Regions from separate parts of the Homo sapiens genome. Here region 2 is reported to be linked to region 1. The links are microRNA targets in miRTarBase. Many come from high-throughput screens and were not tested one by one. Region 1 holds a microRNA gene; the other region holds the end of a gene's coding sequence.

Region 1 (4,000 bases):
AAATTTTACATTTGTTGTAGTTTCTGTTTCTTAATGATTAATTACAGCTAGGATTGTTTTTATTAGTTTTGTCTATTAACCTTCATAGTAATGATAAATTGCTTTATATACCACCCTTACATTATTAATGAATTATGAATATGACTATGTATTAACTATTACCATTGAATTTTTTACTTTCATATTTTTTGTTATTAATTAGCAGGCATTCATTTCAGTTTAAATAATTCCTTTTAGCAATTCTTAAAAGTAGACCAAGTGGTGATGAACTCCCTTAGCTTTTGTTTGTCTGGGAAAGTTTAATTTCCCTCTCATTTCTGAAGGACAGCTTTGCTTGGTTGGCAGTTTGTTTGGGTTTTTTTCCTTCAACACTGAATATATCATCCCACTCTCTCCTGGCCTATATCGTTTCTGCTGAGAAATCCACTGATAGCAATATTGGGACTTTCTTGAACATGATATGTTTCTCATCTCTTGCTACTTTCAATATTCTTTCTTTGTCTTTGAATTTTTGACAATTTGATTATGATGTATCTTGGTAAACCCCTTTTGGGTTGAATTTGATTGGCAACTTCTGAGTTTCCTATGCATGAATGTCATCTTTCCCTAGATTTAGGAAATATTCAGCTGATATTCCCTTAAATATGCTTTCTGACTTCTTTTTTCTTCCATCTTCCAAAATTCCTAATATGTGAATCTTGAAGGTGTCCCATAATTTCCATAAGCCTTTTCATTCTTTTTTCTTTTTGCTCCTCTGACTAGATAATTTCAAATGTCATCTCTGACATCACGGATGCTTTCTTCTGCTTAATCAAATCTGCTGTTGATATTATAGTTCAGGTATTATATTCTTTATCTGTAGGATTTCTTTATTTTTCAAATACCCACACTTCAGGGAGAAGGATTTCTATTTAAAACTTTTTTTTCTATTTCTCTATTATTAAACTTTTCATTTTGTTTTGAAAATTGTTTTTAAAATTTATTTTATTTTTATACATATTTTCTTGTAGTTTCCTAAACTACTTTAAGAGGATTATTCTGAAGTTTTGTCAGTTATTTCTTAGATCTTTACTTCTTCCTATTTCATTATGATAGCTTTCTTAGTTTCTTTTGATGGTGACATATTTCCTTGATTTTTCATAATCATTGTTCCTTGCATTGGTGCCTATGCAGTTGAGGAAACAGCCACCTCTTTTGGTCTTTGTAGGTGATCTTTGGTGGTAGCAGACCTTCACTATGTAGTCTAGCCTGGGATTCCAGGTGGGCTAGTTGGTAGCAATCCCAGATAAGCAGACTTTGGTGTTGAGTTCTCTAGGTGGGCTTGGCTGTTTTCTGTGCACTGAGGTCAAGTGGAATTGCTTGCTGTGCTTTGCGTTCCAGTGAGACCACTTTCTGAACTCTATGGTCAGGTTGAGTCGCTGGCTGAGCTCTGTGATTGCCTCTGATCAGGCAAAATTGCAGACTGTCTTCCCAAATAGCCTGCAACTTTGCCTGATCAGAGGCAGTCACAGAGCAATACCCTTGTGTCTTCCATTCACCCACAACATGAAGGAATTGCTTAATTAACTAAAAGGGCACCCAAATGCCCTACATCTGGCCGAGAAATACTGTTGTTAGAATGTGTAGTTGGGCAGGACAACAGGCTAGGCCCTGAGGCAAAGTTAGTTATCTGGGATTGCTGCTCAGCAATTTGGGATGGGCAGGGGGAGAAACTAGGCTACAAAGATGTGTGTGGGCTTGATCTTACCCCTGGGCCAGGGATAGCCTTAGGCAGGGCATTGAGGCTTGATTGGGTTGCCACGCACCTTCTGGACCTGGGTGGGGCCAGCTGCTCCTTCTGCAGATAACTGCTGACCTGCCTTTGCCTCCTGGCCTGGGGAAGGCTGCAGGAAGGTGCTGGAGCCTGGCTGGGTCACCATGCTTGGAGATTATTAATTAAAATATTTAATGACTGAAAAAGTCAGAATTAAAGTGAGTTATTTATTATTTATGCTACTAACTTTTTCTATATATTTTTCTAATTTCTAAAAATGTAATGAAAAAATAGCCTTGGCATAAACAAACTTCATCTTAAATAAATAATAGTTACATGTAATGTAACGGCATTTTATGATCTTCAGCTAAGCAAATCCTTGACACAAGTCAAAATTATAATCAAGGGTAGTAGGAAAGTCTCTCCTGTACTGGCCTAGGGCACCGAGATATGAGTTTTGACGACATTGCTGTGACCTCCTGTTAGTAGGACTTGCACCTTGAATAACATTTCCATTGGTGGTTTAAGACAATCTCACTCATGCCACATTCTCTTGCCACACTTCTGACATGGCTGCTGGGTTGATTTTAAGCCCTATGTTGCATGGAAGGTTTTTGTTTGTTTGTTTTAGAGATAGGATCTTATTCTGCCACCTAGGTTGGAGTACAGTGGTGTAATCACAGCTCCCTGCAGTCTTGAACTTCTGGGCCCAAGTGATCCTCCAGCCTTAGCATCTCAAGTAGTTGGGACTACAGGCACATACCACTGCACCCAGCTAATTTTAAAAATTTTTTGTAGAGAAGGGGTTTCACTATGTTGCTCAGGCTGGTTTCAAATTCATGGTTTCAACCAATCCTCCTGCCTTGGCCTTCCAAAGTGCTGGGATTACAGGTGTGAGCCATCATGCCAACCACAAAGAAGTTTGTTTGTTTTTTGAGATGGAATCTCTCTCTTTGTCGCCTAGGCTAGAGCGCATCTAGCTCAGTGCACTGAGCTAGAGACTTGGCTCACTGCAACCTCCACCTCCCAGGTTCAAGCTATTCTCATGCCTCAGCCTCCCAAGTAGCTGGGATTACAGGTGTGCGCCACCACACCCAGCTAATTTTTGTATTTTTAGCAGAGATGGGGTTTCACCATGTTGGCCAGGCTGGTCTCCAACTCCTGACCTCAGGTGATCCACCTGCCTCGGCCTCTCAAAGTGCTGGGATTACAGGTGTGAGCCATCATGCCGACCCCAAAGAAGTTTTGTACCTATACCTGATACTTCTCATTTCCTAGTTCTTGTAACTGGCACCTGTTGGCATCCTGTGGGCCTAGTGCTGTGGATAACTGGTAAGCATGGTGAGACTGGCTAGATTCAAAGATTAATGTGTTTCTAAATAGAGAATAAGTTAATTTAATGTGTTTCCAAATAGGAAGAAGATAATTTAGATTATATTTCTCAAAACTGTTTCTAGGGTTGAAACATTGGCCCATTTGATTATTCTCACTATGAACATTTCAGAACTCTGAAGATCTGGACAGCTTTCTAACACCTGTTCAAAACAATCATCTGTATGCTGTCTAACCAGCACTGAAACAGAGGAAGAATTTCCTTACTTGTTCAGAACAGAATATTGCCACAGCCCCACTATTGTTTTAGCTTTGGGACAGCCTCATTATATGGTTGATTTATTCTGAGTTGGCAGGCAAGTCTTTCCACAAAAACTGAAATCAAGCAAGTTCTCTCTATTTTTGTTTGTAGAGTAGAATTTGTAACTTATGTTCATGATTTTATATTTATTTCTGTTAAATAATTTGTTGTTTTTAGTTCATTCTACATGTCAAGAGGTTGGAATTCTGATTTTGAATGCCAACATATTAGCCATCACACGCAGGTTTGTGAGGCATGTAGATGAGATCAACATGGTATGTTCTCCCTCAAGCCCCTGCTAAAACTACGGGCGAGGCTAACACCAGGGACAGAGTGCTCTGCTGTTAACTCCAGTTTGATCCTTCTAGTTACATATGATCCATTCATCCACAACGCAAGGGTGTTGCTTAATTAACTAAAAGGGCACTCGAATGCCCTATATCTGATCATTCAGCTCACAATGTACCTTTGGTTTAACAGAGAGATCATGAGAATATTTTTCAAGTGACTCACAATAGTGAAGATACTCTGTGTCTGCCATACTCCTGTGAACCTCCAGTCTATTCAGTTGTGGGCAACAATGAGATTGCCTTGATATGATTGTTGTTAGCAAA
Region 2 (4,530 bases), not on the chromosome of region 1:
CTGTAATGACTCTTTGGGTTTCTGGGTATCAGACGTTAACTTGGACCCTGACGTATCCAGGTATTCCTCTTTCCCCAGGGTAGAGCCACCTGAGTAAATGGCCATAGATCCTTTAGAAAAAGAATGAGGGGATCATTACTGTGTACACCTGCTGAAATGTTGCAGGAAACTTTCCCCTAGGATACAGTCACCTCTGCAATTAATGAGCTCTAGGTCAGAAAACTGAACTAGAAACTGGCAAGGAATCATGTTTTTGTTTTTTAATTGGAGTGATCTCTCTCAGTCCCCTGCTCATCAATTCTTGCTCACTTTTGATTATATATAAAGCCTTACCCTTGTTGATTAGTCAGCTCTTTTGTCCCTAGGAATGCCTTGTTCTACCAACTATTTCCATGAGACTTTACAGGTCAGGACCCCTCGGCTGCCATTTGGAGCTTAGTGGTTAACAGGATACTGATGGCACCCTGGCTTCTGTGGCTGGCACTGCCACCTGGGCTCTTCAAGGTCTCATCATCATCCACATTGCTCTCAGCAAGTGAAGTTCCATCACAGCCCTTCCTGCCAGCCCCAGCCTGCCGAGGAGAGCCACCGCTGAGCTCCTTTATGATGCCCAAGCCCGCTTATCAGTGCATTCCCAGCAGCCTTGCTGAAGGATGGGTCCCCTGGGCCTTCCCGTGGAACATAATTGTCTGATGGGTCACCTTGCCTCATATATCCATGCTGGCATGCTCCCTTCCCTGAGCCTTCTCATTCCTTTCTCTATTGTTTGTCCCAGCCATTCAGGCATTTCAACATTTTGATCACTCTTTCTAGGCTTCTACCAAGCTGCCCTAGAGCAGTGAGTCTGTATTATCTCCTGGCATTTTTCTCATGGTGTGAAATCCTCTATCCTGAGAGCCCCAAGTCAATATACCCTCTCCTTTATCTAGTTGTATAAACCCAGCCCCTTTGACCAAGCACCCTCAGGATCCAGTCCCAAGAGTACGCCCCTGGCCCCTGCAGTACATGCTGCCAGGTTAGGTGGCTCCTCTGGCATAGATCCCATTTCTCCCTCATCAGACCCCTCAGCCGCAATCAGTTATGTTGTGACTTAAGTCTCGTTATAGGCCTGGTAGCCAGGAGAAGGGGAGGGACCAGTCCTGAGGGACACCTTTTGCTTCATGGGGAAAGACCTTGGACACTGTCTTCCCTTGTGTTAGGGAAGAGGCAGGAAGGGAGGGTAGTTCCAGCTCTTCATGGGGAAGGGTGGGCCTCTTCTGAAGGATGTGAATATTCAGGGAGTTTTCTAGGGAGGCAGATGGTTGGGGAGATCCACTAAATGCTCCCATCCCATGTTTTGGGATCCCAAGTTTGATTCCAACCTTGATCTAACAGACCTGGCTTGGTTGAGTATTTGTTGGCTGTTAGCTACTTTTACCATCAAATCCTGTGCTTGGCCTTCAGCTTGCTCTGCTTGGCTACAGCATGAGATGAGGATTGTTGGCAAGCTACCACAGAGACTCTGCGGCTCACACTTAGTTTTGTTTGTTAATTGACCTCAGCTTTTCATTATCCACTTGCAGGACGTCAATCCAACTCAGCAATAACCATGGAAGCCCACTGTCCTTGTCTCTTTTATCCACCCTTCCCATATTTGAGACACCCAAATCACCCACCAGTCATTGCGTTCCCCTGCACCAGCATGCCATTTCATCTGAAGTCTTCATCACTGGACAGCCTTCTTGTGCCAGGGACTGTCTGTGCCACCTATCCACCAGGGATGGGGGCCTCCGAGCCAGCCAGACAGTGAGTCACTCAGCCTGCAAATGCTGTCTTACCACCTACGTTCGTGGGCCACTGGTACCAATTGTGCCAATTTTAGGCTGAGATGGAGTTAGGAGTACAAAACTGGTGAAGTGACATCTCTGAAAGGAAAAGGGAAAAGCAGGATTGAGCAGAGGAACGGTAGGATCTAACAAAGTCTCTAGCAGCCCACCAAAAAGCTCCAGAGCAGAGACTGCTTATTAGAGGGCTTTCGAGTTGGTAGAAATGACTAGGACTTTTTTTTTTCTTTCTGAGACAGGATCTTGCTCTGTCACCCAGGCTGGAGTGCAGTGGCATGATCAGGACTCACTGCAACCTCCGCCTCCCGAGCTCAAGCAATCCTTTCACCTCAGGAGCTAGGAATACAGGCGTGTGCCACCACGCTTGGCTAATTTTTTATTTTTTGGACAGACAGTCTCACTAGGTTGCCATGACTCGTCTTGAACTTCTGGGCTCAAGCAATCCTCCCACCTTAGCCTCCCAAAGTGCTGGAATTACAGCTGTGAGCCACTGCACCTGGCCTAAATGGCTAGGTCTTATACCACCACCTTGCTCAGTTATTGGCTGGGAATTGCCAGAAAAAAGCATGCTGTCAGCTACCACTGCCTTGCTCAGTTGTAGACTAGGTCCCTCTCTCCCACAGAATAGTGTGTCCTTATCTTGAAATCTGGCGTGGACCCTGAAGACGGTAACGGGGAGACTGTCGGCGAACCACACCCCTCACAGCTGGGCGGCTGGTACTTTCTTGAAGGTGAATTTGAGTGGCACACCTCACGTTGTCTGCCACCACTTCAAATCCTGAATAAAACTGACCATCCTTTGGCCACAGTAGCAATTAAGTACCAGAAACAATCAATGACAATTTCCCATCAGTAACCTCACCTCCAAACTAGGCTTCTAAATCATGCTAATCAGCAGCGGCCTCACTCTGGTAACTGCATCCCCACAACTAAAGCTCCCTCGACTCCTAAATGCTTTTGAAAGTCTGTTAATCCTTCCTAAAACCCTGCATAAGGTCCGCAGTTTTCTTTATCCGAGAGACCGTGCCCTACAAGAGCAGTGCTCTCTTGCTCAGCAAGCAGTGTGTGCAGCTTTTTGTTCTGGGTACTGAACGTGGCCTCTCCCTTTAACACTGTCACCTCTGCCCAAGATGCTCCCCTCACCTCTGCCCCTGGCTTTCATCTGACTCATCCTCGTCATTCAAGTCTCAACTGTCTCTTGAGAGGCCTTTGCTGACCACCTTATGTGATGTCCACCACACCCTACCTAACCACACTCTACCCCACTGCCCTATTCTGTTCTTCATCACACTTGCCAATTTCAAGCATCTTATTTGTGTTGAACTCCCTCACCCTCTAGAATGTAAACTCCATGAGGCCAGGGGCCTTGTCTGTGGTGTTCACAGTGGGAGGGTGAATGAAATAGTTAAGGAGGTGGAAAGATGTTGTTGGAGTTAGTGAAGAGGAAGTCAGTGATGAGGGGCTTGGGACACAGGTTTTCTTACCACCACCTCCCAGTCCTTAGCAGAGTGCTTGGAACATAGCAGGGACTCCCTACAATGAGTTAAAGAATGAATGAAAATACGTGACAGTTCAGGGAAATGTTTAGGGGAAAAAGCAAGATTTTTAGGGGGTTAAGTGGAGACCAGAAAGAAAGGAATGAATTCATTACATTTAAATGGAGTTACATGGAGTATTCTTGTGCAGTGGGGCAGTGGGAGGATGCAGGAGGGAAAGTAATACATACAACAGAGAATGTAATGGTGGCAGCCACAAAAGACAATTTGATTTTTGTGTCCAGCTGAATTTCACCTCTCCGGGCCTGACAGCCTAGGGGTTCCACACAAGATAAATAATTTTAACATTTTATTGATACTATCTGGAGGGGATATCATCCAACTGACACAAATCCAAGAAAAAAAAAAGGGAATATGATTGTGATGCAGTGAAGGAGGGAAGTGACATGAAATTTCCCTAGATCCTCACAGAAATAAAGACCACGATAGTTATGACCGATTTATATGTTTACAGACTACTGTCCTCTGTTACCTGTGTATGTAGATAAAACTTCAAGCATTAAAAAGGCACATTGGAAATAAGCTTAATTAATAGTAGTACTCTCAATAGAAGACACTAGACACGCACTTTACTTATAGGTCATGTTGATGTCTATGATAAACAGATGTTTTGCCTCTGACAGCAGAACTTCCTTTCATTTTTCTCATTCGTTTTCTTTGGTGGGTTCATTTTTTTGAATCAACCACACTTCATTATTTCTATTAAGCAATTTGACAGGACTGTTGTAGCCTGCAGTGTAGTAAACCTTCTCATCGAAAACTTTTCCATCTTCCCTTAAAATGCTTGCTAATGTCAAAAGTTGTTCTTGATTCTTTTGGGCACTAGAAAATCCATCGAAAGACCTACAAAGGAGAAAGGAAATAACCGTGAATGATTTTAATACTGATGTGAATGTCAGTCTGAAGCAAAAAGCGGGCGCTAGTACCGTGAATGCTGAGTGAAGTGCAGCTCCAAAGTTACTCCCTCTCGGCCAGGCGAGGTGGCTCACACCTGTAATCCCAGGACTTTGGGAGGCCAAGGTGGGCGGATCACTTGAGGTCAGGAGTTCAAGACCAGCCTGGCCAACATGGTAAAACCCCATCTCTAATAAAAATACAAAACTTAGCCAGATGTGGTGGCGGATGCCTGTAGTCCCAGTTACTTGGGAGGC

What was found. Region 1 holds the annotated microRNA hsa-miR-4772-5p (UGAUCAGGCAAAAUUGCAGACU, at 1,443-1,464, shown strand). A microRNA usually pairs through its seed, bases 2 to 8, with sites in the 3' UTR of a target mRNA and lowers its output. Matches are read on the target gene's strand: a 7mer-m8 pairs with bases 2 to 8, a 7mer-A1 pairs with bases 2 to 7 and ends in A, and an 8mer does both.
Region 2: miRTarBase lists HEBP2 as a target of hsa-miR-4772-5p. Seed matches in the 3' UTR shown: 8mer at 2,100-2,107.

What each region holds. Positions count from the first base shown.
Region 1 is chr2:102,430,858-102,434,857 of GRCh38, forward strand. It overlaps MIR4772 (microRNA 4772), which reads left to right and starts at 1,432; the gene lies at 1,432-1,509. All of the region lies in intron 3 of IL18RAP (interleukin 18 receptor accessory protein), which reads left to right.
Region 2 is chr6:138,412,572-138,417,101 of GRCh38, reverse strand. It overlaps HEBP2 (heme binding protein 2), which reads right to left. Exons shown (of 4, transcript NM_014320.3): 4 at 1-4,222. The coding sequence ends at 4,024. Among named protein-coding and RNA genes, the nearest start is that of HEBP2, 11 kb to the right of the region's middle.